4 linked regions of the Homo sapiens genome follow. The protein of the gene in region 2 interacts with the protein of the main gene of each other region in a pairwise test. Each region holds a gene or a part of one and is shown on either strand. Other genes may lie near its edges.

Evidence for each region.
Region 1: the proteins of SAXO1 (region 2) and FAM124A interact in binary tests that used the Homo sapiens proteins (3 or more experiments, as listed by UniProt).
Region 3: the proteins of SAXO1 (region 2) and PM20D2 interact in binary tests that used the Homo sapiens proteins (3 or more experiments, as listed by UniProt).
Region 4: the proteins of SAXO1 (region 2) and KLHL40 interact in binary tests that used the Homo sapiens proteins (3 or more experiments, as listed by UniProt).

The regions. Positions count from the first base shown.
Region 1 is NC_000013.11:51,273,341-51,282,000, reverse strand, and holds part of FAM124A (protein FAM124A), read right to left. Parts: intron 1,552-8,660; coding exon 745-1,551; 3' UTR 1-744.
Region 2 is NC_000009.12:18,926,382-18,933,101, forward strand, and holds the end of SAXO1 (stabilizer of axonemal microtubules 1), read right to left. Parts: intron 2,675-6,720; coding exon 1,671-2,674; 3' UTR 1,269-1,670; downstream 1-1,268. UniProt on the Homo sapiens protein: May play a role in the regulation of cilium length. Stabilizes microtubules at low temperature.
Region 3 is NC_000006.12:89,148,537-89,157,196, forward strand, and holds part of PM20D2 (xaa-Arg dipeptidase), read left to right. Parts: exon of another isoform or gene 1-728; coding exon 729-877; intron 878-3,249; exon of another isoform or gene 3,250-3,370; intron 3,371-4,506; coding exon 4,507-4,649; exon of another isoform or gene 4,650-4,653; intron 4,654-6,211; coding exon 6,212-6,366; intron 6,367-8,660. UniProt on the Homo sapiens protein: Catalyzes the peptide bond hydrolysis in dipeptides having basic amino acids lysine, ornithine or arginine at C-terminus. Postulated to function in a metabolite repair mechanism by eliminating alternate dipeptide by-products formed during carnosine synthesis.
Region 4 is NC_000003.12:42,688,537-42,694,704, reverse strand, and holds the end of KLHL40 (kelch-like protein 40), read right to left. Parts: intron 6,096-6,168; coding exon 5,988-6,095; intron 5,837-5,987; coding exon 5,651-5,836; intron 3,847-5,650; coding exon 3,700-3,846; intron 2,824-3,699; coding exon 2,712-2,823; 3' UTR 2,161-2,711; downstream 1-2,160. Other genes in the region: HHATL (protein-cysteine N-palmitoyltransferase HHAT-like protein), read left to right, coding at 887-1,088, 1,487-1,628, 1,830-1,954. UniProt on the Homo sapiens protein: Substrate-specific adapter of a BCR (BTB-CUL3-RBX1) E3 ubiquitin ligase complex that acts as a key regulator of skeletal muscle development.

The sequences.
Region 1 (8,660 bases), on a different chromosome or scaffold from region 2:
ATTCCAGTGAAATGTGCTGTTGAAAAGGTGTATGCAAATCTACTTTCTGGAACTCACATATTTTAAATGCACCAAGAGTCTGTTACTCATGCTAAATCTTTATGAAACACATTAGCAACTTTTGTATAAATCCAGATTTGCAGGTGTTGCATGGCTTCAAGATGAGGAATTACCTGTAGTCTGATATACGTTTACTTCTCAAGCTGACTTTTTCCATTATAAGCAGTGCTTAAACATCCCTAGGGCCACTGTTCTCTGGTAATGTAAATATATATGGAGAATCCAGTAAGGTGTGCGTTACGTTATTATGCAGTAATCCCTCATACAAGTCACTTACTATCTCTCCCACATTCAACGTTTTGGCCTTAATTGATTTGCCTTCATACCATGGAAAAATTGCCAAATTGGTTCTGGCTGACTAGGTTTTCTTTTCATTTCAAATAATTATATAAGCCATTTAAATTGTATAAACCCACTAAACCATACCTCAAATGCTGAATATTCAAAAAATATATTTTATGACAAGTTTGTTGAGAATTTATTTGCATAAAAATGCCAGTATTTTTCTGCTGTGTCTCTAGAGATATACCACCCCCCAGCTAAGAGTGGGTGGTAGGCAAATGTGCTACGGGCTCCTGGGAAATGGATCATGAAGAATGTGGTGTGCTCAGTGGCCAGAGGGGCAGTGGGGCCTGAGTCTGTGTCTCTGAGTTTGTGTGTTTCGAGAACAAGAGCAGAGGGCATTCAGATGTAGAATTCCTCCATGTCGTTATCCCCGGGGCCAGCCGACCCTGGGGGTGGTGGCATGTCTCCATCAGTCTGCTTGACTTTGGGGGTATCGCATGGGAGCTGTGGGGAGGAGTCTGTGAGGGTGGAGGTGCTGGGAGCTGGGGGAGCAGCACGAGCTGTCGCTGAGGAGCTGGAAGACCTTTTGGTGAAGAAAGGGAGGGAAGCCCAGGAGGCCTCTGTGGTCACCCTGCTGACAGTGGGCAGTGGTCCCTCCCTGGAATCCTTGTGAGCTGCCCAGTGGCTGCTGCATCTTTCGGAGGGGAGGGGTGTCTCCACTGTGCTGCAGAACCTACTGGGTGCAGAATATGCAGAGACCACAGACAGGTCCGATGAGGACAGCCGCAGGCCTGTGTCCACGTCTGTCTCCTGGGCCCCCTCTAGGTCATCGATGGAGAGGAGGTGGCCATGCCTCCACTCTGATGCCCTGTGCCCTGGGGCACCTGTGTTTGAAAACCACTGTGGTTCAGCTGAGGAGGCCAGGGAGGGGCCTCCCGTGGGCAAACAAAACAAGGACTTGCTTCTCTGGAAAGACCAGGGAGGGTTGGGGGTGCTGTTGGCTCGTCCGGCAAATTCCTGCTGGTGCCCAGGAGGCAGGCCTGTCCGGATGGGCCCCGGGTGAGGACTGTTGAGCGGGGACTGCTGGCTGCTGCCAGGTGTATGGCTTGGTACAGCAGTGCTCGGCAAAGGAGTGGAATGACGTTTCTTCTCGGAGGCATGATGTACTCTGCCAGGTTTAGGAAACTTCTTATGCACCCTTTGTGCCTGTGGGGGGAGAGGCAGATCACATTAGTGCAGGATGGGAATTGTTAAATGCATCAGGAAACACAGTTACCAATCATTGGAAACTCCTGGCAATGTCATGGCAATAAAGCATTACCAGCATTACCAGTTCTGCAATCTCTAGAGCAAAGACAGAGGTAGCAGAGCTTTGAGGAGCACCAGAAAGAGTTTTCAGTCTGAGGAGCCATCTCCGAGGCTAGGAGGAGATTCAGCTCCTTATCACAATACAGAATACTTTTTAAAGCACACATGCCCATTGCGCTCAACAAACTGGCAAAAAGAACATGGGCCTGGCTGAGCAGGATAACGGAGATAAGAATTATCACAAAATGCAAAAAGAATGCTTGCAGGGTTTCTTTCCTTCCAACCAAAGAATCACAGTGTGCTCACCTGATAGACACTGTTTGTAAATGTTACTGATGAGAGGACAGAAGTGATCAGGATGGGCTATGCAGAGACAATTTCAGACCAGATCCACATGGGGTGTGATTCTAGTATATGCATGATAGCCAGGACACAGTCTTAGGGTGGGGTGGTCCATGGTTCCAGACAGTAAATCCTCCATGAGTGAGGGGCTATCGGGGTTAGCATTTATCTACTTGTTGCTAGTAACTACTGATTCCTCTATATACGTTACCTTTCAGGAACTGTGTACAGGAAAGGGAGCTGCCGCCTGCTGACTGATCCTGCGGATCCTGCAGGGGTTGGATGAGCAGCTTTGCCCTGTCATATCCCAGCCTATCCTCCTGGTCCAGCAGCCCTCCCTGGCCCTCACTGCAGCTCACCAGTAACCCGTTTCTGTTGTGCAGAACTGGAGACCTCTCTTCCAATGCGCATTTGCACCAGGGTCTGCTTCTCTCAGATTCTCTCTCTGGTCTGTGTCCAAGCATACAGGCCAGAACCCAAGGCCAACCTTACTATGCATCCAAGGTTTCAATTAAATAATGGGTTTGGGGGCAGTCGGTCTGGCTTGACTTAGTATATATTAATAGTACCTGATTTACAAATCCCTGCAATAAGAAAAGGGTTCTGACTGGGGTTTACTACAAGGGCTCTCGGCATCCAGCAGGAATGGAGAGTCACCCCTTTGGGATGGGGTAAGGAGCAGCCCCAAAAGGCTCAGATGTGCCTAAGAGGTGTCACAGCTGGGTGGCTGCTGGGGAAACAAACCAATTTTCTTAATCATTTGAATTGGCTGAATAAAAGAGAAAATAAGTCAAGAGAAAATAAAATGAGGCTATTAGAGAAAGAAGTCCTTGGGTACAGAGGTTGTTTCCGGGGGAGGGGGACAATGTTTATTAATTCAAATGTCTATCTTATTTTTTCCAAAGGCCAATTCCTTTGGGTGCCCTAATGTCATTTTCTTTCTTGATAAGTATGCATCACCTTGTAACTTCTGTCTTCAAAGTCTTATTTGAGAACATGCACTTGGTGAAAAATTTTGCAGTCCGAATCTGCCTGAAAAAGGAAGCCTTTGTGGTTGCTTTATGAGGAGCAGAAGGTCAAGGTTCCCATGCAAGGAATGCCAGGGGACGTCTAAATGTTCCCAGTGTCAGGGAATAGGGCACTGTTCAATTTGGCTTAAAATCAAGCACAACTGATGGAGGATGAACACTGTGTAGTTTTGCAGAGATTTTCACGACTGTGCTTGTTTAACAGAAATCTACCTGTATTCTCTTATTTTTACCACATGACGAAGGTAGGAATCCAGACAAACCCTACATTCTGCTGCTTTGAAGAGAGATGGTACCCGGTCTTTTTCACTGGAGGGTGCCCACGTGCACAGTGGAGCTGCCTGCTGGGTGGGCGGAATTTGAGGCTGATATGGCATTGTGAATAATGGCAGGAAATCCTGGGTGGCAGCAGGAGGCAGGTGCTTGAGGAGCCTCCACATCGCTCCTGAGGCCTGGAGCTGATGTGACTGCAGGGCTTGCATATGGGCGGATCTGGTGGTATTCTCTGGCTCTGTCCAGTGGCAGAGGGGTCAGTTTCTAAAAGTGGGGTCTTGTTGGATTTAAAGACAACCCGCACCTGTGAAGGTTGGAGCTCCTTTATGTGCTGTTCCCCTGGTGGTGGTTCCATCTCTGGCCTCCCTTGTGTGCTTGTCTGCTGACCAGAAACACTAGAGGCTGGGAGGGAGTTACTTTAGATGTTTCCAGAGACTCCTCCTCAGTGGACCTTTTTAGAGTGAAACAGGAACCTGAATCCTCCTCGCATGGAAGCCTCCCCCTGGCTTTCAGCTCTTGGAGGCTGCCCTCCTGAGCTGCTCCAAGTGACAGCAGCGATGTACTCGTTCCTTTCTTTCTCTTTGAAGCAGTGCAGGCTAGCTGCCTCCCTGGAATCCAGAAGCTCCCTTCTTTCTATTTAAGGAACTTTATCTAAGGAACAGAATAGCATCACATAAATTAATGTGCTTAAGGCAACCAGCCCGGGAAATTTGGCTATGTCCCTAAAGTCACCAAAAAATTGGAATTCAGTAACTGATCCAAAAGTTTTCCCTGCACCTTTGAGTACAGTTTGCAACTGGGGAAGCGAAGGGGTCTGCGGCGGACCACTGAGGCAAAGCATCTTTTTCAAGGATCTGGGTGTCAAGAGGCTCATACCCTGGCACATGGATAGAATCCTTTCTCTCTTTTTTTGAGACAGAGTCTCGCTCTGTCGCCAGGATGGAGTGCAGTGGCGCGATCTCAGCCCACTGCATCCTCTGCCTGCTGGGTTCAAGTGATTCTTCTGCCTCAGCCTCCTGAGTAGCTGGGACCACAGGCACGTGCCACCACACCCGGCTAATTTTTTGTATTTTTAGTAGAGACAAGGTTTCACCATGTTAGCCAGGATGGTCTCAATCTTCTGACCTCGTGGTCCACCCGCCTCGGCCTCCCAAAGTGCTGGGATTACAGGCGTGAGCCACCATGCCCGGCCAATTCTTTCTCTTTAATTTTTTACTTTTTATAGATTTAGGGAGTACAAGTGCAGATTTCTTATGTGCAGATACTGCATAGTGATGAGGTCTGGGCTTTTAGTGTACCCATCACCCAAATAGTGAACAGCGCACCCAATAGGTAATTTTCAGCCCTCACCCCTGGTCACCCTCCCACCCTCCCACCCTGTGGAGGCTCCAGTGTCTCTTATTCCACTCTGCATGTCCATGTGTACCCATTGTTTAGGTCTCACTTCTAAATGAGAACATGTGGTATTTGACTTTCTGTTTCTGAGTTATTTCATTTAAGATAATGACCTCCAATTCTAACCATGTGGCTGTAAAAGATGTGATTTCATTCCTTTTTATAGTTAAGGAGTATTCCATGCTATATATACCGCATTTTTTTTTCCAGTCATCCACTTGATGGACACTTAGGTTGATTCCATATCTTTGCTACTGTGGACAGTGCTGTGATAAACATACGAGTGCAGCTATCTTTTTGGTAAGAATCTTTTCTTCTTAAATCGCTAGTAAAGGTGATTCTGCCCCTCCCCCAGGAGCCCTGGCAGAGTCTCATGATTTGTTCATGGTCAGGGACTTTACCCTCAGCCTCACACCTCCTCTTTCCCAGTAAGATCATTTCCTCTTGTGTTTTCCTTGGCAGAAACATGAGCAGTGTGACAATGTCTGCTGTGTAATGAGCCCGTGATGGCCATTTTAACACAGGGACTAATACAAATTTGGGGCTGTCTCAAGAAAATTGGGCAACGGGTTCACATTGAGAAATCAGAGTCTTGCTCTAAAGAAAAATACCATGTTTTGCTTTTCCTTTCCCTTTCCTTTGGGTGGTTTTCACACACTCACTAAGGATGCTGGCCATGGGCAAAGCCTGTGTTGTCTTTCTGGAATGGTCAGTACAGGAAGAGGATTTGGATGGAAAGGGCAAAGTTCACCCTAAGAATGGACAAAGCCCGTACACGTTTTGTAAAATCAGTGATGTTTTTGGTAGAAAGTTTGAAAGTTGTCAAAGAGATGCTGAGCTAGACAGGATGGCGGTTGAGCAAATGCTTGCTGGATTGTCATCTGTCTACCTTCTCTTCCTGTCGCTATTATGGAAGTGTAAGGCTTTCTGGAAAATCATCAGTTATAGCAACATACCAATTCCATTCTCTGCATAGAATGGCAGGTAGTATAATTCAGGGTAAAAGTACTTATTCCCCCAAATTGGTAAAATGGCAGCAAAGTGATAATTAGCACCCCCTGTGGCTTCCTGCCAAGAGTTACTTAGCCTCCCTAGCTTCACCCCGCATACCTCTTGAGTGATCTCTCTGAAAGTCAAACCTGAACAAGCTCCTTGGCAAAACTCACTCCTTGGCAAGCTCTACAAGACCCGGCCTACCCCTTGAGCCTTGTGTCTTTCTAGAATCCTAACTCATGTGCGCCAGCAGTTTACAACTACCATGCTCCCAAACACCTCATGCTCGTTTGTATCTCCATGACTTTACATGGTGCTCCCAGTGTCTGTGCACTTAGAGAATACCTGCCATCTTCGGAGACAAAATTCAAGGTGCTGCTGTGAAGCCTCATTTGGCCACTTCCCCTCATTTGGTGAACAACATGCACTCATTTCTCTTGGGTATATTCCCAGGAGTGGAAATGCTGGGCCACAGCATGAGCATGTTTGCGGCTTTAGTAGATACTGTCAGTTTCCAAATTGGTTGCGTCGATACATAATTCTACCAGGAATTTATAAGTATTCCAGTTGCTCCACGTCCTCACCAGCATTTGGCATTGTAATTCTTTTTAATTTTAGCCATTCTGGTGGGTAATGGCATTTCATCATGTTGTTAATTTGCATTTCCCTGATGAGTGATGATATTGAGCATCTTATGAGATGTTTATGGGCTATTTAGGCATTGCTTTTAGAGACATGCCTGCTTTTTATGCATACTCTGGATTTAACACCTTTCTTAGATATATGCATTGCAAAAAATATCATCAGCCAGTTTGTGGCTTACCTTTTTGTTCTCTTATTGGTATCTTTTGATGAACAGAAGTTCTTTTTAAAGTCATTTATCTTTTTTTCTTTAAGGCTGGTACTTACTGTACTCTGGTTTATTTCTTTATTTCTTTAGAGACAGGGCCTCCTTCTGTTACCCAGGCTGGCGTGCAGTGGCACGATTATAGCTTATTGCAGCCTCAAACTCCTGGGCTCATGTGATCCTCCTGCTGCAGCTGCCTGAGTAGCTAGAGCTAAAGGCATGTGATACTATGCTCAGCCAATTTTTTTTTTTTTTTTTTTGTATATACAGGGTCTGGCTATGTTTCCCAGACTGGTCTTGAATTCCTGGCCTCAGGTGATCCTCCTGCCTTGGCCTCCCAAAGCACTGGGATTTCAGGCATGAGCCATCATGCCTGGCCCCTTGCTCTATTTTAAAAACTTTTTGCTACTGCATCCAGTAGCCATTGTGAACCAGGATTCCTGAGTACTGTGGATGACCACAGGGAGGACAGAAAATAAGCCACTCTTGATTAAGCCACGATTCTTTAGGTCCCTATCATTCTCAGTTGTACTTGAGCTTACAAATTACTCCAACAAATAGGAGATATTGATATATTTAGAGGAACTGGGTTAATTGTTAAATCTTCACTTAGTTCTGTGAGGCTTTTAGAAATTGGGTTGCTTGACATCTGATCCTGCAATTATGTGTTTAAACAAATGTTCAGTTTTGTACATAGCAAGCACTCAATATATTCCTGAATGAATAAATACAAAAATACATGTGAGATACAAATACATATCTTCTAAAATAACTTAAGGTAATTTTAAGGTACTTATATGTGTGTAAGTTATGATATATGCCTATATATCATAAATCATAAATACCAATAAATATTATTTGATTTTAACAGAAAAAAGTTATGAGGACTCTGATATTTTTGGGAAAAGCAGTAGCAACATCTAATGATAAAGAGCAACTTTTCAAATAAAAAAATATCTGAGTAGTTGCCTCAGGGACCAGCTTTGTTTAATACAGGTTGAGTATTCCTAATCCCAAATCTGAAATCCAAAATGCTTCAAAATCTGAAACCTTTTGAGTGCTGACATGATGCTCAAAGGAATGCTCACTGAAGCATTTTGGATTGTGGATTTCCAATGCTCAAGTGATAAGTATAATGCAAATATTCCAAAATCCAAAAAAATCTGAAATCTTAATCACTTCTGATCCCAAGCATTTCAGAGAAGGGATAGTCAACCTGTATCAGTAGTGACTCTTGTGAAAATGTGGCAAGGATCCTAGGAGATACTATTAATAAACAGAAAAGGGCTGGGCACCTAGAAGTTCTAGGAAACAACATGGATATTGATCTGATGTATATTAAAAAGCTATTCACTTAAGGAGGAACAACAGAGAAAATCAAAGTGACAGCTGAGGACCCGGAGCTAGCGCCAACAAATCTAATGATAGAATCTGTAAAACTTGAAAGAATATCATGCCCAGGTGCAAGCTTTCTCTTTGTATAAGTTCTGCATCTTTCCCCGAATATTTATTTTTGGTGTAATTTGTGAATTACCCTGCCCATTGGCTGTAAAACACAGGAGTAGACAGAACTGATTTTTATATTAACAAAGGATCATCAGAGTTTCATTAAGTATCATTGATTTTAAGAAATTTCCAAAGAGAAATATCCCGTGACATAGTTCAATGACCAGGAGGAGCTGACAGAAACAATTAACAATAACTTAGGTTAAAAATCTCATTCTTACTTTATTTGAACAACAAGAGATAGAGTATTTTGTTTTTGAATTATCCAGATAATTTCTTCAATTCTCCAATGTAATTTTCTATTGCACTGAGGGTATAATGCTAGCTTGTGGGACTGAACTTTAGCTAATTACTGCATTCTAGCCTGAAGGATTCAAGTTAAAAAAAAATTAAGCCAACGCAATGTTACACGCCTGTAGTCCCAGCTACTCAGGAGGCTGAGGTGGAAGGATCGCTTAAGCTCAGGAGTTTGAGACCGGCCTGGGCAACATAGCAAGCCCCTGTCTCATTAAAAGAAAAAGTACATGCATGCATATCTATCTGCGAGCCTGACTGGAATCTTGGAGATTCAGTTTAATCTCAGTTTTCTCTAGCTCAGCACAATTGACATTTTCGGCTAGATA
Region 2 (6,720 bases):
TTGTGGAGCCAGGAGATCTGAGACACAGAAGATGGGAGGCGCCTGGTGTTGTGGAAGAGCCATGGGTCAGAAAACCTGGATTCTGACCTTGGCTCTGCTGCTCCGTGCTGTATGGCCTTGGGAAAGGTGCTTAACCACTCTGAGCCTTTCTACCCCTAAGGGCAGGCACTCAGACCCCATACAAACCAATGAGAGGATTAAATAACATAGATCCCAACCCAACAATGAAAACAAAGCTCATGGTGAGGATGCAAGGTGTGGGGACCTGCGAAGCCTGGGTCAGGTGGGTGAGAGCCATGGAAAGACAGAGCCCTAGATAGAAAGGAACAGGCCCCTGGTCCCTCCACCAGGCCCTGAGCCCAAGCCCAAGGCTTTAGACATGAGCTGAACTCCCCCCACCTTCTCCATGCTACTCCCAAGTTCCCTGAGACCATGGAGTACATTTCAGGATTCTGTGAACTCGAGAGAGGCAAGTGTCCCAGACTTAAGTCTACGTCCCTCTGTGAGGCTCACCCAGACCCATGAGCTCACCTAACTGGCACAAAGTCTTTCCTCAATTCTGCCCAGTTAAAAAAAAAAATCTGCAAGTTAATTGGCTGTATCGGACCCTCTTTAACAAAGTCCCTCCTCAATTTTGCTCAGTTAAAAAAATATAAATAAGATAACTTTAAATTACTTGGCCTTAGAAACAAACGTGGTAAAAACCTTAGGCTCAGGAGAGAAACTCCAGGGCGGAATGTGGCTCACCACTATGTTAAACTTTGTCACAGGTCTGGTCACAGCTGTCATTTTAGGACAAGCACATCCAGGCTCTCCAGAAACCAGGCCAGCCTGGGGAAATTTCTTCCAGGCTCTGAGCATTTAGAAGAGCCCACAGCTTTTGCTCACAGCTCAAGGACCAGGCGTCGACTGCCTGGTTGCCAAGGGTGCTTTTTCTCCCTCCTCTCCCTGGAATCATAGCCTGTACCAGCTTGGGGTTGGGGAGAGGTCTGGTAGGTTCATGCATCACTGCCTCCCTCTTTCTTTCCCTCCATCACCTGTGACTAAAGAGATCCACACCCCATCGAACAGCACTATTCTTGCTGGTATGTCATGCAGTGAAGAGGTAGAAGGATGCTTTGTGAAGCAGCCCTGCACAGAGAGAACCCAAAACAAGACTCCAGACCAGGCCCAAGGCACCTCCACCAATACTGATACACAATGGGGGTGCTAGTATAAAATCTCCCAAAGGTCCCAAGCAATACGGACTACTCTCTGCATAGCCAGCCTACAGATTCATTCCCCCCAAAATAAAATTTATTCTTTGGCGCTTCATACTTGGCAAGGGTTAATCATTATGTCAGTTCATACAATGATTAAATTAATAAAATACATCTGGATCAGAGAAACCCTCACAGACCAACTTTGATTCCATAAGCACAAAGTAAAGGACCTGAAACGGGGTGGGGATGCAGTAAAGGAGAAGGTAAGGGGAGTTAATTAGCCGGTGATTAAATGTCATTTTCCCTGAGTCAAGTGATTCTCATTTTATTCAAGTGCTCTGGAAGTGGTGAAGGTTTTTTGTTTTTTGTTTTTTGTCATTTTAGGGAATTCTTTTTTGTCCAACAAATAATTCTCAGTTGTCTGCTTTTAAAAGTACTGTGTAATTTCTAAATTACTATTTTTCAAAATCAGGCTAACACTTCCAACTCCCTCTGGTTGGGGTTTTCTGAATCATCTACAGAAAGATGGCTGCTCTGCTGAGAGCCTGCCTGGGAAACTGGTTTGTATATCCTGTGACCCAAAGCATCCACTTCCTCAAAGGTGTAGCCAGGAGGCTCAGGATATGAAGCTAGGCACCTGCCCATTTCCTTGGGAGTAAAGCTGATGGTGTAGGTGGTCTGGCTTTCCACAGGGACATTTCCTCGAGGGCCAGACCAATGAGGCTTACAGCTTTTGGTATTGATAGGCAGGTGGGGCACATAGTGGGCCCGAGTGGTGGTCAGGCAGTCCAGGGGCTCGGTGGGCAAGTCCAGCTGGGGAACGGGCTTGACTGGCTCTGTGCGCATGCTGGACCACTGCTTGTAGTCATCCTTGGTGGTGGAAGAGCCTTCAAAGCGACCGCACTTCTTAATCTGAAGTGCAGGTCGGCAGGACTGAGCTGGGGCACCCTTAGGGCATGTGTAATGGGCCTGCACTGTTGTCAGAAGATCCATCCTGTCTTCGGGAGGGACGTAGGTGATGGGAGCTTTGGAGAACATCCGGGGCATTGGCCAAGCTTGGTACTTATCTCGAAACTCAGTGGTGTTACAGAAAGGCATGTCTAGCCCAGGAGGCCTGGCTAGAGGTTTCAAGCTCTTGGCAGGCTCCCCCATCAGGCCCCGGTAGGATTGTTTTTGAGTGGTAAGGCTTTCAAAGGGGATTTCACAGGGCCTGAACTTCTCTGCTTCATGCACAAAGCGCTTCTCCACGGGGTGGGCCACATAGCTCATCTTGTAGTTAGTCACATCCTCCAAGGGGATGTTACAGAGCTTTGGCATGGCCAGAGGTTTACAGCTTATGGTCTTCACAAGGCCTTTTATGGGGTAATCGTCCTGGTGTGTGGTTCTGTTATCAAACCTGACTGATGCCGGCTGGTATTTGTGTTCCAGACGAAGTGGCTCTCGCCTTGGTTGGTTCCAAGGCAAATAATCAGCTGAAATTAAAGCAGAAGAGGTAATTAATAATAAATCAAGTCAACCAACTTGCATATATTCTACAGAGCCCCAAGGTCTTAAGGCAGTCTCCGATGAAGTGTTCTTTGAGACAAAGAAAGAACAGAGCACATCCCTGCTACCACTTCATTCAAACACCTGATGTGTCAACTTTATGGTACTTGCAGGCAGAAGAGACAAATCTACAGGAGCTCTCATCACACCCCACAATACTGCATGCAGGGATCTTAGAGGGTCCATGGTCGTGAGAGGATCCAGGGAATCCATTCCTGCAGAAAAGTTCAACCACTAGCTTACTCTGACAACACTTCCTTTCTTCTGTGGAGAAGGTACTTTCTCTGAATCAGCATGGAAGGAGTGAGAAGATGCATGTGATGTAGTGAGATAGAAAATTCACAACCCACCACTGGTGGGCCACCAGCCAGATGAACCAGGCCTACCTGGTCGTCTGTGGAGTGACAGCCCACTGTGTCCCTGTAATCCTCACATGTAATCCACATAAATCAAATATGCTGCTCCAAGGGAATAGGGCATTGTATTGGGTGGTGAGAGAACAGTGGCTGCCACTTATATAAAACTTATTACATAACAGGCAGTATTCTAAGTGCTGTATATATTAACTCACTTAATCTTCAGACTGTCCTAATAAGGTGGGTACTATTAATGCCAGTTTTATAGATGCAGAAACAGATATACAGAAAATGAGGGAATTTGTCCCAGCTCACTTGGCTAGAAGTGGAAAAGCACAAATGCAAATTCAGACCCAGAGCCCACGATCTGACCCACTCTACTCTCTGGTTCTAACAGTTAGGGAATACCAACTACATGTCGGTCAATTGTGCTCAAGTCTTTCCATACATGATCTTGTTTCATCTTCACAATAACCCTTTGTGATGGGTATGATTCTCTCCATTCTACAGATTTCTAAATACAAGGCTCAGAGGAGCTAAGAAACTTGCCCAAAAGTCACATGGCTAGTGAGGTGAGTTGGAATTTAAACCGTATTGTTGTCTCCAAAGCCATGTTCTTCTGATACCTCATATCACACTTAGGGGCATTTTATTTCCAGATGGAGTAAAGGTTAAAGAAAAAAATAATCAGAGGGAAGATTTTCAGGAGGAAAAGAACTTCAGAATGTTTGAAGAATGAGAAGAACTGGCCAATCTAGATGTCCATCTCCAGAGGAACCTCTGCTGTGGGGCTGGAATGGCCAACATAATGGGAGGCCTGGACCCCAAGGAAATCTGCAGTAGAGATGGCCTCCATGCATCTTGAGGACCAGATACTGTCTTCAGGCAGCACTGTAAGCCTTTGAAACTGGCTTTGCCACACAGACCATCAGGGCCAGCACACCAAGACTGAAAGTCTAGGTGAGAAAAATGGGATGACAAACCATGTGATTCAACTGCCTTGGCACTGCTGGAACTTTTTTTTTTTTATTTGAGATGGAGTTTCACTCTTGTTGCCCAGGCTGGAGTGCAATGGCACAATCTCAGCTCACCGCAACCTCCACCTCCCAGGTTCAAGCGATTCTCCTGCCTCAGCCTCCCTAGTAGCTGGGATTACAGGCATGTGCCACCGCACCCGGCTAATTTTGTATTTTTAGTAGAGACGGTGTTTCTCCGTGTTGGTCAGGCTGGTCTCGAACTCCCGACCTCAGGTAATCCGCCCACCTCGGCCTCCCAAAGTGCTGGGATCACAGGCGTGAGCCACCACGCCCGGCCTACTGCTGGCATTCTTTCAAAATACTTGACTAACATCCAAGACCTAGGTTGCCCCATCAGGCCCATAAATTACCAGATTTAAATTAGCCCTAGTGAGCCCTCTGAATCTATAGGGAATTCTCTTGCTTACTGCTGTACGAAAGGTTAGAAAAAAAAGCTGCTTCCCAGGAGCCTTGGGTATACACACCAACACTAGTGGAGTCCGCAGGCACAATTTGTAACAGTTTTATTGAAATCTAATTTGCATAATAAAAGGTACCATCTGAAGTACACAATTTAGTGACTTTTATGGAGTTGTATATCCATCACCAAAATCAAGTTATAGAGTATTTGCATCATGCCAAAAATACCAATTATCTTCATTTGTAGTCAGTCTTTACTCCCATCTCCAGCCCCAGGCAACCATTAATTTGCTCTTGGTCTCTATAACTGCGCATTTTTTGGACATTTCATATAAATAGAATCACCCAATATGTAGCGTTTTGCATCTGGCTTCTTTCACTTAGTGTAATGTAATTGAGGTTCATCCATAATGTAGCCTGTATCAGTAGTTCACCTTTTTATTGTTGAATAATATTATATGATACCAAATTTTGTTTATCATTCACCAATTGATGGACATTTTGAGTTGTTTCTACTCCTTGGCTATTATAAAGAAATTCTGCTATGAGCCTTTGTGAAGAAGTCTGTGTGTGAACATATATTTTCATTTCTCTTGGGTAGATAATAAAGTGAAATTGCTAGGTTGTATAGAAAAATCTATCTTTAGCTTTTTAAAAAAGATACTGCCAAATGTTCTCAAAGTGGAGAAGTAGATGTGCCATTTTACATCCCACCAGCAACGTATAAACATTCTCATTTCTCCACATCCTTGTCAATATTTGTTATCATCTGTGTTTTTAAATTATTATAGACATTCCAATGGGTATTTAGTAGTATCTTGCAGTGTCATTTACATTTCTCTAATGACTAATGATGTTGAGTATCTCTGCATGCACTTATCCGCTCTTCATGTGCTTTCATTGGTAAAATATTGAGATGTTTTGCCCATTTTAAAATTAGATTGTCTTCTTATTGAGTTATAGAATTCTTTGCATGTTCTAAATACAAATCTTACACCAGGTATGTGATTTACAAATTTTTTTCCAAGTCTATCACTTCTCTTTTCATTTTCTTATTATTTTAACAAAACACCCACCTGACACCTGACTCTTTTCATTTCTTAATGGTGTCTTTCTAAGTGCCCAAAGGTTTTGAATTGCGATAAAGTCCTATTTATATCTTTAATAAATCATGCTTTTGATGCCATGTCTAAATTCTTTGCCTGTCCCAAGATATCATAGATTTTTCTCCCATGTTTTATTTTGAAACATTTATAGTTTTAGCTATTACATTTAGGTTTCTGACTCTTTTGAGTTTGGATGCGGTAACTTCGTCTTTTTGCATGTGGATATCCAACTGTCCCAGCACCATTCATCAAAAAGACTATCCTCTCCCACACTGAAGTGCCTAGGCATCTTTGTGAGAAGTTAACGACAATAGACATAAAGGCTTATTTCTGTACTCTCAACTTAGTTGCATTGGTCATTATACTTGTCTTTGTGTCAGTATAACTGTCTCAATTGCTGTAGCTTTATAATAAAGTTTTGTAATCAGGAAGTGTAAGTTTTACAACTTAGTTCTTATTTTTCAAAAATACTTTCAGCTATTCTGGTTTATTTGGATTTCATATATAAAACCTAAAATTACTTTGCCAAGTTCTAAAAAGGAAAAGGAGCCTTCTGAGATTTTGATAGGAATTGCATTGAATCTACAGATCAATTTGGGACAACTTTACCTTAATAGTATTGAACCTTCCAATCCATGAACACAGAATGTCCATCATTTTTGTTCAGATTTTAATTTCTCCCAGCAATCGTTGGTAGCTTTCAGCATGCAAGACTTACACTTGCTTTTTTAAAATTTTATTCCAAGATTTTATTAATTTTGAGGCTATTAAAAAGAGAACAGTTTTCTTGACTCCATTTTGATTGTCCATGCTAGAATACAGAAACAACTGATTTTTATATATTGTTCAGTACTGACATCTCGCTGAACTCATGTATTAGTTCTGGTAATTTTTTGGATTCCTTGGTGTTATCTGCATACAGGATCATGTTGTCTGAGAATAAAGACAGCTTCGCATTTTCCTTTTGAGCCTAGATACATTTACTTGTCTGCTTGCTTTTCTTGCATTATTGCACTAGCTAGAACCTCCAATACAATATTGAGTGGAAGTGGTGAAAGCTGACATCCTAGCCTTG
Region 3 (8,660 bases), on a different chromosome or scaffold from region 2:
CAATAAATCTGCCTGGTTGAACTGGTGGAATCGAATTAGTAAGTTTGTGTAATAGTTGGCTGTTTCTAACTGTGGCATTAAGACTTGTTTAATGTTCTTCATAAAGGATTAATGAGTTCAGACTTTTAAAATAGGTAGCCCAGTAAGGAATCAGAGTTTAGGCCAGAAGATCAGGACATCTAATCCTAATTCTGCCTGAAGACTTGCTCTGTGACCTGGGGCAAGACACTTCACTCAATTCCTCAAAAACACCCCCTGTAAAATGATGATAGAGATCACCCACCTACCTCACAGGGTTGTTGTGAGGATAAGTAGTAAGTTAACAGAAAGTTTCTGACTCGTAAAGTACTTAAGAATAATTATATACATACATACACTGAAAGGCTTAGTCGAGAGGAACCTTTTTGAAACAAATCCTAACAAATTTTGAGGGACTAAACTTGTAGTATTTTTTTTTATCTTTGCCATTAGTTGACTTGTAAAATTGGGAAAAGCTTTTTATAGTGTCTTTAGTACATACTTTGCACCAAGTTGGTATAACAATGTACATTTTGTGATTAATTTAGCACCATTTGTTGATGCCCATTGCGTAAGCGTCATAGAACAAAACCTGTCTTAATAGGTTAAGGACTTTAATGTAGATTGTGAATACATATGCAGGTGAACCTGTTTGATATATTCCTATGAGGATTTTGTTGTTTTTCCCTGACATGAGTATTTCCTTCTAGGTAGTTGTCCTGGGAACCCCTGCAGAAGAAGATGGTGGTGGCAAAATTGATTTAATTGAAGCAGGGGCTTTTACAAATCTTGATGTTGTTTTTATGGCCCACCCATCACAAGAGAATGCTGCTTATCTACCAGATATGGCTGAACATGAGTGAGTAATCAAGTTGAAGATAAACTTCTTAGGGGAACACAGGCTATAGAATACTTTTATGTCTAAACCAGAGACGAAAACTCCACATTTGTATATTTAAGAAGTAAATTGAAAGACAATAACAAGATGTCTTGATCTATGGAGTGACATTTGGCAAGCCTCTTCTAATTGAGATTCATTATGGTGTTCATAATTGGAGTATTAAAATAGTAGCACTTAGAAACCATAGGAATAACAAACATGTTGACAATTAAGTTCTCTTTTGAACTGTCAATAATCTGGTGTCTGGAAAACATCTGTCCTTTCATATGAAATTGTCTTTGCAACTGAATAGATTTGCGAGAGATCGTTCTATTAGCTATGGGAAGAAACCACACTTATCCATTTTATTTACTTTAATTTGAGTTCTTTGCAAAGAGGATAAATTATGTCCTGAGAGAGAATATGGAACATGAGTAGCTATGGTTTTTGTGGAACTTCTCATTCTGTGCTTTTCCGATTTGTCTGGTGCTGAAACCTTTTATTTGTCTTTCTTTATGTTGAAGAACTCACTTTTTAGTACCTAGGAGCACACATCATTGAAGTGGTTTGGATTTTTTATACCAGAAATTTCAACCATAGTAGTAACTATAGTAGTTAATGGTCCAGGCACAAGGAGCCAGTGCTCAGCTGCTTCAGCAAAACCATGTGTTTTCCTCAGAAGTAGCTCGGTACTGAGGGAATGATAGCAGAACCATCACAGCAGTGCTTCTAGATTGTACCCGGGTATCCCACCTCTTAGCACCTTACCAGGCCCTGTTTTCAAAGGGTGATCATTTTAACTATTAGGGTATCTTCCTTCTTATCACTGGAAATTGGTACTGTGGCAGTAGGAGGAATCTTTGAACTTTGGTTTCAAGGGTGGTGGTAAACTAGTCCATCTCTAGAAAACACTGGGGATTAGAAATCTCTGCCCTTGCCTTTGACTAGAAGGGGCCTGCATATGCAGGCAGGCTCTGCAGCTCATTACCCTTCTGGGACTTAAGGTTAGGCTTCGTGGTCTTGGTTCTGAAGTCAGCGCACTTGACCCCAGACCTTCTCCTAGTATCTGCCTTCTTAGCTTTCTCACTGATCATCTCTTTTTTTTTTTTTTTTTTTTTTTTTTGAGGCTGAGTCTCACTCAATTGCTCAGACTGGAGTGCAGTGGCACGATCTTGGCTCACTGCAACCTCCGCATCCCAGGTTCAAGTGATTCTCCTTCCTCAGCCTCCTGAGTAGCTGGGATTACAGGCGTGCGCCACCACGCCCAGCTAATTTTCATATTTTTAGTAGAGACAGGGTTTCACCGTATTGGTCAGGCTGGTCTTGAACTCCTAACCTCAAGTGATTCACCCACCTCGGCCTCCCAAAGTGCTGGGGTTACAGGCATGAGCCATCACACCTGGCCTTCATTGGTCATCTTTTAAGATAGAAAAGAGAGGTCAGGTGCAGTGGCTCACACCTGTAATCCCAGCACTTTGGGAGGCCAAGGCAGGTGGATCACCTGAGGTTAGGAGTTCGAGACCAGCCTGGCCAACTTGGCAAAACCCCATCTCTACTAAAAATACAAAAATTAGCCAGGCATGGTGGGCACCTGTAATCCCAGCTACTTGGGAGGCTGAGCCAGGAGAATTGCATGAACCTGGGAGGCGGAGGTTGCAGTGAGCCAAGATCGTGCCATTGCACTCCAGCCTGGCCACCAGACAAGTGAAACTCCATCTCAAAAAAAAAGAAAAAAAAAAAGAGAACAAGATCAAGAATTCATTTTTTTTTAAATTACTAATCCACTTTTCTTAAAAATTCTTTTTTTTTTTTTTCCGAGAGAGTCTCGTTTTGTCACCCAGGCTAGAGTACAGTGGCGCAATCTCAGCTCACTGCAGCTTCCGCCTCTGGGTTCAAGGGATTCTCCTGCCTCAGCCTCCCATGGACCTGGAATTACAGGCAAGCACCACCACACCCAGCTAATTTTTGTATTTTTAGTAGAGACAGGGTCACCATGTTGGCCAGGCTGGTCTTGAACTCCTGACCTCAAGTGATCCACCCGCCTTGGCCTCCCAAAGGGCTGGAATTACAGGCATGAGCCGCCAGGCCCAACCACAAATTTCTAATGAATAAGATAAAGCAATCCTGCTGACCACCTTTCCCAAATCCAGTCCTTTTTCTAGAGGTATGTATCCTTTTCAGAGTGTTTTTGGTGTACTTATGGGACATAAATAGAATCCTGTATAAATTGTGAAAGAAGGTTTTCCTCAAGTATTCCACTCAATATATTGTTCTGGCTTTTTAAAATTAAATAGTATGTCTTGAAAATAATTCCATATAATCCTTCTCGTTTTTATAATATTTATCACCAGTTGTGATGAAATTCCGGTTTTGCCAGGCCAGGTGGCTCACACCTGTAATCACAGCACTTAGGGACGTCAAGGCAGGAGAGTCTCTTGAGCCCAGGAGTTCATGACCAGCCTGGGCAACATGGTGAGAACCTGTCTCTACAAAAAAAAATAAAAAATTAACTGGGCATGGAGCACTCCTGTGGTCTCAGCTATTCATCTGTGGGAAGCTGAGGCAGAGGAGGATTGCTTGAACTTGGGAGGTGGTGACTGCAGTGAGCTGTGATCACGCCACTGCACTCCAGCCAGGGTGACAGAGGGAGATGAGTACCAAAAAAAAAAAAATTCATTTCAAGGTCATGGTGATAAGATATATATCAAGGAAATAACAATACAGTATCCTGAAATCTAATACGTGTTTGATGTTTTTACTTGATTTTTGTCCTGCTAATAGAATGTCTGGAATCAGTTGAGAAGAAATATCATAAGCATTCTAAGGACTCCTGAATCTAACCCATTAAAATAAGTCCAGATTGGTTTTCTAATCACCTAAATGTGGGTATTATTAATCAGGCTTAAAAAGTGTTATCAAAGCACGTCAATCACAGAGCTTTATAAGTAACTATTCAACACGCAATCCTTTCTCTAATCTTTTTTTTTTTAATTGTATTAGAGCAGTTAGACTGGTGTGAGAACTTAACAGTTTATTAAAATGTAAAATATTAGTGATGTAGGCATTTTGGAACATAATAAAATATTGGATATTGGTCAGGAACAACTGCTTTAATACTAGGGTATCTTGTGATAACATTGAATATAATCTGATTTTCAGAGGTTGTCTTAACCCACTTCAAATAGTAACTCCTTTCTGGCTTTCCTGACCTTCCACCTCTTAAGACAGAATTTCTGATTTTTTACAGACTTTTGATAATAGAATCATCACAATGCTGTGTAAAAACATACAGGATCCATTTTTTTTTTTTGTAATTTCAGCACCTGATACCATATTGCATGTTTGCATTAGATTGTGTATACATTTAATCTTTTCTCTTTTTCTCTCTTTTTTGGGAATGCTTTCTTTGTGTCAAGCACTATGTTACCTAATAATAAACTATAACTAACATAAATAAATTGCAGTGTTATTACTACAAATAATTTGCAAATCAAAAGTCCAGCAATGTGAATTAATTTTGAATAGTAGTTGGGTAATTCTGACTACCTGGATTTTCTTACTTTAGCAATAATAACAAAAGTAATTTCAAATGATTTTTTATTTCCTAGTGTGACTGTGAAATACTATGGAAAAGCATCTCATTCTGCTTCTTATCCCTGGGAAGGATTAAATGCATTAGATGCTGCTGTGCTGGCCTATAACAATCTGTCTGTGTTCAGACAGCAAATGAAACCAACCTGGAGAGTTCATGGTATGAATGTCAAATACCTTCTATAATAGATGGTGCTTGCTATAGTTCAGTGCAGTATAATTATTTAATATTCAATTTTTAAAAATTTGGAAATATTTTTGTACTTCATATGAATATTCTGATTTTTAAGCATATTTTCAGAAATTCATGTGACAGGATACTAAGATGTTTGTCTATATAGGGTTAGAAAGACAGTTTTGATTATTGTACATAAATGGAATGTCATCTTTGAGTATCAAAGATAAAGGTTTTATGTAAGGGGCTGTGTTCTTTCGGTGGGTGTTTGAAAATTGGATCTTGATTTTCCAGTTGTCCTCATTATTTCTTAATGATAACCAAATTTTGTCAATTAAAAAAAGGTATAATAACTGCTAGTTTTATTTAAGTGCTGTTAGTCCTGAGTAATATCTTTTTGTGTGATTTTTTGTTTTTGAGACAGTCTTGCTCTATTGCCCAGGCTGGAGTGCAGTGGTGCAATCTCGGCTCACTGCAACTTCTGCTTCCTGGGTTCAAGTGATGCTCCTGCTTCAGCCTCCCAAATAGCTGGGATTACAGGCAGGCAGACACCACCAAACCCAGCTAATATTTGTATTTTTTGCAGAGACGGGGTCTTGCTATGTTGGCCAGGCTGGTCTCAAACTCCTGGCCTTAAGTGATCTGCCCACCTCAGCCTCCCAAAGTGCTGGGATTACAGGTGTGAGCCACCATGCCTGGTCCTGAATAGTGTCTTTTAAAATTATATATATATATCACCATAATATAAATACAGTCAAAGTACTGTCTTGAAGGCACACATTTGTTTAATTTATTTCCTTATGATTTAGGAAATTGTTATATTTTAATATCTATTCTTTACCTGATTTTGCTATAGCCTGAGGTCAATTTGTAATTGTACTTTTACCAGTTTTCCTGCTTTAGTTTCTTTAAAAGGAACAAACAGGAATGTGTAGAAATATTTTTTTAAAGTAGGTCATAGGACATTGGATTTTTTGTATCTATTTTAGTTATTACTTCGAATGAATAAATCTTAATTCTTTATAATTCCAAATAAATACATTTGTTTTGACAGTTGATAATACTTAGTGATCTTTGACCTGCATTGGTTTTTTTCTTGGCATGAAAATTATTTTTCCTATAGCTAAATGCCATTTAAAATGCTCATGGGATTCCTGAGGTATGAGGGTAATTATAGAACCTCATACCATTGTTGAGGTATGGTAAAATCTTTTCCAGAAAGCTTAAGATGTTACTAATTTTTTTTGTGGTTATATAATTTCTAAGTTTCATTATAGTCTGGATCATAATTTCTTAACATTATGTAAATTCTTCTGAATGAAGTGCATATGGATAATTATTTTTTCTTATCAGCCAAAAAATATCACCCTATGTAAAGAAATTTCAGTTGTACAACATAACAAAATCTTTGATTGGTGTATTGGTGGAGCTAGTGAGTTTAAATTATTTTTCTTTATGAACATATTGGCTGAAAAACTTAATGGGTGTATTTAAGCTTAAAGAAATGGTCACCAAGCTTAATTCTAGTAATTTGGTTCTTTTTATAGGTATAATAAAAAATGGTGGTGTAAAACCCAATATCATTCCCTCTTATTCTGAATTAATCTATTACTTCCGTGCACCCTCAATGAAAGAACTTCAAGTTTTGACCAAAAAGGCAGAAGATTGCTTCAGAGCTGCAGCTTTGGCTTCAGGGTGCACAGTAAGAACTTTTAAAAGTTAATCTAAGTTACAATCAGAGGTATATATGTGGGCTAGCACTGTTAGATTGAAATCTAACTTGACTCTCTTATTTGGTGACATGTTGAATATGCAAAATGAATTGGCTGAATAGTTAATGTGAAAGTCTTTAATTTTTACACGTTTCATTCCTCAGTGCTTGCAATAGGGAAGATGACAGGTCATCTTACTTATATAGTAATTAGAATAATTCTGATACTTCTATGCTAGAATCCCTGCCTTTTTACAAGTTATATTCTTCCTTGTCGGCAGTTATACTTTTAGAATTGCTATATGTAGTTTCTATAAAGGAAAGTTTATGGCAAAATCAGCAAAAGCTTTTTTTTTTTTTTTTTTTTTTTTTTTGGTGGGGGGACAGGGTGTTGCTCTATTGCCCAGGCTGGAGTTGCAGCGGCACGATCTTGGCTCACTACAACCTCCGCCTTCCAGGCTGAAGCAATCCTCTCACCTCTGCCTCCCACCTCAGCCAGCTGAGTAGCTGGGACTACAGGCACGCACCACCACACGTGGCTAATTTTTTGTATGTTTTTCTGGAGACAGGGTCTCACCATGTTGCCCAGGCTGGTCTCAAACTCCTGAGCTCAAGTGATCCACCCACCTCGGCCTTCTAAAGTGCTGGGATTATAGGCATGAACCACCTCGCCCAGCCAGCGAAAGCCATTTCTGAAGTTAGGGTGTGTATAGTAGTGATATAAATACTATGGCTTGCTGGAATGGAAGATAAAATAGACACAGAAGTTAGTTAAGAGGTTTTATTGATTTGTTTCTGTTTGTTTGTTTGTTTTTGAGACAAAGTCTTGCTCTATTGCCCAGGCTGGAGCGCAGTGGTGCAATTTTGGCTCAACGCAACCTCCTCTGCCTCCTGGGTTCAAGCGATTCTTATGCCTCAGCCTTCCAAGTAGCTGGGACTACAGGCGCTTGCCACCACACCTGGCTAATTTTTTTTTTTCTTTTTTTTTTTTGAGGCGGAGTCTTGCCCTGTCACCCAGGCTGGAGTGCAATGGCGCAATCTCAGCTCACTGCAACCTCTGCCTCCCAGGTTCAAACAATTCTCCTGCCTCAGCCTCCTGAGTAGCTGGGATTACAGGCGCCTGCCTCCACACCCAGCTATTTTTTTGTATCTTTAGTAGAGACGAGGTTTCATCATGTTGGCCAGGCTGGTCTCGAACTCCTGACCTTGTGATCCACCCACCTCAGCCTCCCAAAGTGCTGGAATTACAGGTGTGAGCCACCACACTGACTGGTTTTGTTGATTTGAACTATAAAGTTAGTATTTAAAATCATGTACTGTGTAAAGTGGAGTGAGTTTTAGAATTATACAAGATAAGAATCTTGCCCTAGAGGGAGCCTGTAGTCTAGTTGGAGAGACAAGATCTTGACCCATAACTCTCAGCCTAGCTAATTCTGTAACCTTTAGAAATGTTTAGTGTCTTTGGCTCTCCATTTTCTTGCTTGAAAAATGGAGATAATAACAATTTATCTTAGGATTCTTGTGAGAATTAAATGAGATAATGTTTCTGAAGGGTTTAGAGCCCAGCCTTCATTTATATTGCCTTATTTTTTTCTGTTCTTATTAGTCTAGAGATGTATGATTGATTCACGTAGTAGCAGTATCTCACAGTAGCAGTAATTCTCAGAAAGCATATGTTACGTGTCCTGAGAGTAGTGTGGAATGTGTCGTGAGGATCAGAGGTGGGAAAGAGTGGTCTGGGGCTGTTAACCTTGGAGGAAGGTTTTGTGGAAGACTGTAGACCTGAACTGAGCTTTGAAGGTTGATCATACTTTCAGATATGCATGGGAAAGACAGAGACTGAAAGTTCTTAGGGAATATAGTCAGCAAAGATAAGAATATAGAAGCTCGTGTTGTGTTGTAGTTAATCGATAAACATATGGACAGATGTAGGAGCAAAGATGTATTCTCATATGCCACTAGAGAAGATGGTTATAGTGAATGAAAACTGTGAAATGTCCATAGCTGAGGGCAGTAAAAACTAAATATTTATTCCCTTATTCATTTATAATTATAAATATTTATTTGTGAAATACTTATGGATGTGAACTATTATCATTAGGCAATATCTCAAGGTATACAGTATTCCCTTATGGTAAGGTTTGTTGTTATTGGATTTGAATCTATATTTAATTTAATTTATTTATTTTTAAAGTTTTTTGTAGAGATAGGCTCTCCCTGTGTTGCCCAGGCTGGTCTCAAACTCCTGGGCTCAAGTGATCCTCGTGCTTTGGCCTCCCAAAGTT
Region 4 (6,168 bases), on a different chromosome or scaffold from region 2:
TGAGACACAAACCAACTGTGTGGGTGTAAAGGTAAGAAAGGCCAGTGAGGCCAGCATGATGAACTGGGGGAGCATGGTGGCTGATTTGGTCAGGAAGGGAACAGAAACCAGACCACTTGGGATCTTCTAGCCAGAGTAAAGAGACTGAGTTTATTCCTATTGTAATGGGGAGCTATTCAGAGAGGTTAATCATGGAAGTGATGTGACCTGAGCTACACTCTTAAAAGATGCCTCTGGCTGCTGTGTGGAGAATGAACCATGGGGGCAAAAGCAGAAACAAGAAGACCACTTAAGAGGCTCTTGCAATAATTTATGTGAGAAGAGTGATCATCTTGACTAGGGTGGTGGTGGTAGAGGAGGTGAGTGGTGGTCAGGACTGAGAGGAGCCAACAGAATTTGCTGGCTTGCTTGGATGTGGGTGATGAGGCAAACTGAGAATCCAAGATGGCACCAAGGCTTATACCCTGAGCAACTGAATGGATGGTGGTGCCATTCACTGAGATGAGGACGGAGCTGGGTTTGAGCAGGGATAGGGGAATCTGTCAATCAAGTGACATGGCTAGTAGCAATTGCATATACAAATCAGGAGAGACTGGGCTAAAGACACAGATTTAGGGGTCATCGTCATAGAGCTAGTACTTGAAATCTTGGGTCTGGATGAGATCATTTGGGAAGTAAACGAACAGAGATAGAGAAGCTATAATGTCCCAGGCTGAGCCTGCCACAATTTGAAGTTGGTTGGAGGAGGAGCTGCTACGTGAGGTCAGGAATGTTGAATGCACCCAGGGTGACAGTGTTGAGGAGGACGCCCTGTTGTGTGTCCTCTCCCATCTCATCCCTGCCCTTTCCCACACTCCCAGTGGCCCTTCTCCCATCTTTCCTGCAGATATGTGTATAACCACATTGGTGGGGAGCATTCCGCTGTGATCCCAGAGCTGGCAGCCACAGTGGCCACATTTGCCATCACCACACTGTGGCTTGGGCCTTGTGACATTGTCTACCTGTGGTCATTCCTTAACTGCTTTGGCCTCAACTTTGAGCTCTGGATGCAAAAACTGGCAGAGTGGGGGCCCCTAGCACGAATTGAGGTGAGCAGGGAAGACCTGGGGCTGGGACTGGCTGGGTCATAGAGGGCGGGGGGGCACTGCTGCTTTCTGGAGTTGTCCAAACACCTGGCCCCTAATCCAGAACTTTCTCACCACCACCCTCTTAGTTGTCAGAGCAATGGCTCACTCTGTAGGAATCTGCCCCTCCCTCCCTTCTATGAGGAATGGAGCACCTGGGCCTTGCCATGTTGGTCAGGCCTTGTCCTCTCTCTGGACCTGTTTCCCCATGTTTAACAAGGAGGGAGAGCTGACCTGGGGCTCTCCGAGACCCAGACATAGCCCCAAGACCTGACTGGCCAGGTGGGTAAGGCTGCTGACCCACCATGTCCTCTTTCCTTTGGCCTCTTGTCCCGCTGCCCATGCTTTCCTGGACCGGATAGGCCTCTCTGTCAGTGCAGATGTCCCGTAGGGTCCGGGCCCTGTTTGGAGCCATGAACTTCTGGGCCATCATCATGTACAACCTTGTGAGCCTGAACAGCCTCAAATTCACAGAGCTGGTTGCCCGGCGCCTGCTACTCACAGGTGAGGGACAGGGGTGTGGGGATACAGAAGGTGCCAGGCATCAGCCTCAAGGACCGTGACCTTCCAAAATGCCTCCTATCTCCCTCATCACCCCTGGGACTCAGAAGGGAGGGCCCATCAAGCGGGGAGAGGGGTGGGAAGACAAAAGTCGCTGAGGATGCAGTGCTGCTCCTGAGCATCTATGACTCCCTCCCCACACAGGGTTCCCCCAGACCACGCTGTCCATCCTGTTTGTCACCTACTGTGGCGTCCAGCTGGTAAAGGAGCGTGAGCGAACCTTGGCACTGGAGGAGGAGCAGAAGCAGGACAAAGAGAAGCCGGAGTAGGAGGGAGCGGGTAGAGGGATGGGCTCTGCTCAGCTATTCTTGGGCCAGATGGGGCCTGACCGATAGAATAAAAGACTTTTCTACAACAGCTTGGCTGTTCCCTGACCCTTCTTCCCACAGTCCCCTGGCTCCACGTCCATAGTGGCTGAGGAGCTGGAGGCTCTAGGCCTCAGGCAGGGGAGGGTTCCCACCCATAGGGTGGAGGGGACACCAGATGGAGAGCAGAGACCATCGACCTTGGCAGCCCAACAGCAGAACACTGAAGCCCCAAGTCTTCAACACACCTGCTCACTGACTCTTGGAGCACTGATGCAGACCCTGAGCTGCTTGCTCAGAAGGCACTTTATTCTTCCTAAAGAAGGAGACATATCTGCACTGTACACTGCACTTGATGGGGATGCTCCCATCGGACAGACGAGAAGGCTGAGTCCTGTGGGGAACTTTGCCAGCACACTCAGCTAGGCTGGGGCAGGGCCAGCACACGGCCTGGGATACCGCCCTGTGGTTCTGGTTCATGGATCAAGACAACCTAGGGGGATATGGCAACACTGGAGAAGCCTCTAGTTTCTCACCCTTGCCCAAAAGTCCAGGACTAAGCAGCACTTCCCTTTCCTTGGCTGACGCAGCCCCTGAGGCACCATAACTGGATCCAGGTAGACTCTGGCCTCTCCTAGCCTCTTTTCTGGAGCCCCCACAAGGCCAGGCCAGTGAGGGTCGCAGGATGGGAGGGGTGCTTAGTTCAGTCTGCCTGAGCTGGTCACATCTTAGTCAGGCACAGCACATTGAGCCGCACTGGTAGGAAGGTGGCACCTGCTGCATAGGCGATCTCCCGCAGGACACCCTCCCATTTCTTCTCCTCCTCGTTATACCTGGGGATGAGAGAGAGTGGGGACAAGGATGGAGAGCTTGGTCAGCTGAGTCCAGAGTGGAACGCAGCAGAGAGGGGTGGCTGAGGGCACTTGGCCCATCTCTAGGGAGATCTGCTCCTGAAAATCCCCAGGCTCTGGGAAAGGAGACCCCCCACAAGACCCACCCCAAGGAACACCCACCCCACACTCCAGGAAGGGTCTTTCTCCCCAGGAAAGATCACCTCTCAAGGGGTGTTCCCATATTCCTCAAAGTTCCCCTCCAGGAAGGTCTACACTGCCCACACCACCCCATCAATGTCCTCTCCTTGAGAATTTCCATGCTCCATTTCTACTAAGTCTCACGTCTCAGCCTCCGGCAGCACTGCTCCCCAGGGGCTGCCTGCAGCAGTGCAGATGGCTGCAGGTTCAGGAAGGAGATGCCCCAGAGGCTAAAGTTTCCTTCTCCCACCCCCACAAAGGACCAGCCATAGAGAGCAATGGTTCTGAAAGGCCAGGGCTCCAACTGTTTCCCAGCCCTAGTGGCAGCCCTCCCTCCAGACCAAGCACCCGGAAGGCAGGAGAGAAGAAAATCCGGCTGCTATTTGGGCCCTGTTTCTGTGAGTCTATGACCTAAGCTTGGGTCTGCTCCCATCTGCAACACTGTTGCTGCTCCACAGTGGGGCATGGTGTCATCTGTGCAAGCCCAGACTTTCCCAACAAACTGGTGAGAAACGGCCAAGCAGGGTATGTTGGCTATTCCTCCCTACAGGACTCCCTAGAAGAGGGATCCGCTTTGCCCCCAGAGGAGCTTGCCCAGTGCCTTGGTACCCCACCATGGTGCTATGGGGTGTCAGCCTTGCTCATGATGCCCCCTTGCCTCCCCAGGGTGGGACTCACCTCCAGATGTCATTGAGCTCTGTGGGAACCAGCTCTCCAGACTCCGTCTCCAGTGTGGCAAAGCCACCAATGGCATAGAGGGTACCCACCAGGCTGACCAGGCTGAGTGAGCTACGCTCCTGTGGGAAGGCCTCGAAGGGTGCCCACCTGGGGGTGTGTGAGAAGGTGCATCATTGGGATGCCTCGGCAAGCCCAGTGACTGTCCCTGCCACCCAGCACCCACAGCTCCAACTGCAACCCTTTGCAATCCAAGTCCCAGGCACCCATGCCCCCAACCCCATTCCCCTTCCCTGTCCCTCTGGTCTTCCCTTCCTTCCCCATTCTCTTGCTCCTCCACTTTCCTTTCCTTGTCCTCTTGCCATTCTATCCAACCTGTCCAGCAAAGTCCACCATGGATCTCCCCACTGCCCCTACTCCTCTCCTGAACTAACTCCACCCTCCAACTCACAACCCCAGCCCCTAGCAGGCCCCCAGCCTTGCCCTGGACGCAGTCCTTTTGCCCCTCAGCGGCCCCTGCAGCCCCACCCACCTTGCACACCTGCTCTATCCTTCTTCTCCCTTCACAGCCCAGTTGTTCTCAATGTATCTTCGCTACCCTGGCTCCTGCCTTGGGCCTTAGTCCCATCCTCCAAAACTGACCTTCCTGAGGTCCACAGTCACTGCACACGCACTGAGGTCCTACAGCACACAGCCCTGCTGACGTGACTTTCCTCACCCATCTCTTCGGCCTCACCTTCGTGGCCTCCTTCCTGGATAATGCAGCTGCCTCCACCATCAGGGCTTGGACCTCAGCTCCTCCCATTTACACTCTCTCTCCTGAGGGAGCTTGGCCCCTCCGTGTGCTACTGACCCCCAGATCTCTCCCTCCAGCTCAGCCCTCTCTCTCCCGGGTGGGGTCCTTTTGGACACCCCCAGGTACTTCAAGTCCACATGTCCTAACTGGACCCTCACTTTCCCTACCCAATCCCAATGATTATCCAGTAAATGGCCTCCCACCCTCACTCAGAAGCATGTACTTCTCCCCCTCTCACCCCCACATCCAATCAATAGCTAAGCCCTGTTTCTCCCACCTCCTAGACTCTTGCTACTCAAAGTGTGGTTCATGGCCCAGCAGCGTCAGCATCTCCTGGGGGTGCGTTAGAAATGCAGACTTACAGGCTTTCAGCCCTCCGCATACCGAGAATCAGAATCTGCACTTTAAGGCGATCCCCAGGAGATTTGCATGCCCATCACAGTGTAAGAAGCCCTGGCCTGTCTTTGTCCGGTGCATCCCCTCAACCCCATCTCCGCTGTGCCCCCAGCTCCAGGCCTTTATCACCCCTGACCTTCCTGACCCCTGGGAAATCCCTAATCTGCTCTCTATATCAGTTGCCATGAAGTACTTTAGTAGAACACAGATGAGATACAGTCCCTCTCCTGCTGGCCCCCGCTCCAGCCCCAGCACCGCCATCCCAACTCCATCACCCACCCACCTCCACCCAGCTGGAGCAACACCTTCCCTCCTATAGGCCTTGAGTTTTTTCTCCAAACTGCCTCAGCACCACCTTTCCTTAGTCTGGGGCAACCTCCTCCCACCACCCTCACCCCTTTTGCGAGCTGAGTCCAACTGTCTCTCAGTTCAGTTTTCTCTTTTCTGATGTCCCAGGCAGGGCAGCTTCTGTCTTGTTCACTGCTATATCCCTTGCACCAGGCCATTGCCTGGTATGAGTCCCTGAATGAGGAACCTGGCATCCCCTCCCCCAGCCCTGGGAGCCCCCTCCTGCAGACCAGGCTGGCCATAACCCTTGCCCCGCCTCCCCACCTCACTGCTGATCAGGAGAGAAAGCCTATTTCTATACTGATGTCCAAAGTCAACACTGGAGACCCAAGACAGGGACTGCAGCTCCTGCTGGGGCTGACAGAAGCCCAAAGCCATGCAGTTGTCCTTGGCGGAAGGGACAAGCTTTCATACTTGTTGTCTGTGATGCTGTACACTTCGGCAGAACTGGTCAGCCCTGTGTCGGTGACCCCAGCTGCCACGATAATGCGGCCATCATGGACAGTGGCCCCAAAGAGTGAGCGGGCGGTCTGCATGGGTGCCAGCTCCTTCCACTCAAACTTCTTGGGGTCATAGACGCACATCTTGTTCAGGCACTTCCTGTGGGGTGGAGGGTGGGGATGGGTGGAGAGAAGCAGGAGCCCAGCCACGCCTCCCTGCAATCACCTGCCGGGGCAGCCAGGACAAACCCCTGACAGCCTCTGGGAGATTCTACCTCTGCTCCACAGACTCACTCCAGGCCCAGCCTCACCTGTCACTGCCTTTGCCGCCAATTACGTAGACAAGGTCCATGTGGGAGAGCACTGTGTGGCCATACACCACGTAAGGCAGCGGGTCCGATTCACCCCATTTGAATGACCTGGAGGAGACGGGAGTGGGGGTGGGGGAGGGCACCCATCCAGGCTCGGCTCAGTCCCTGTCTCTGCACCCAT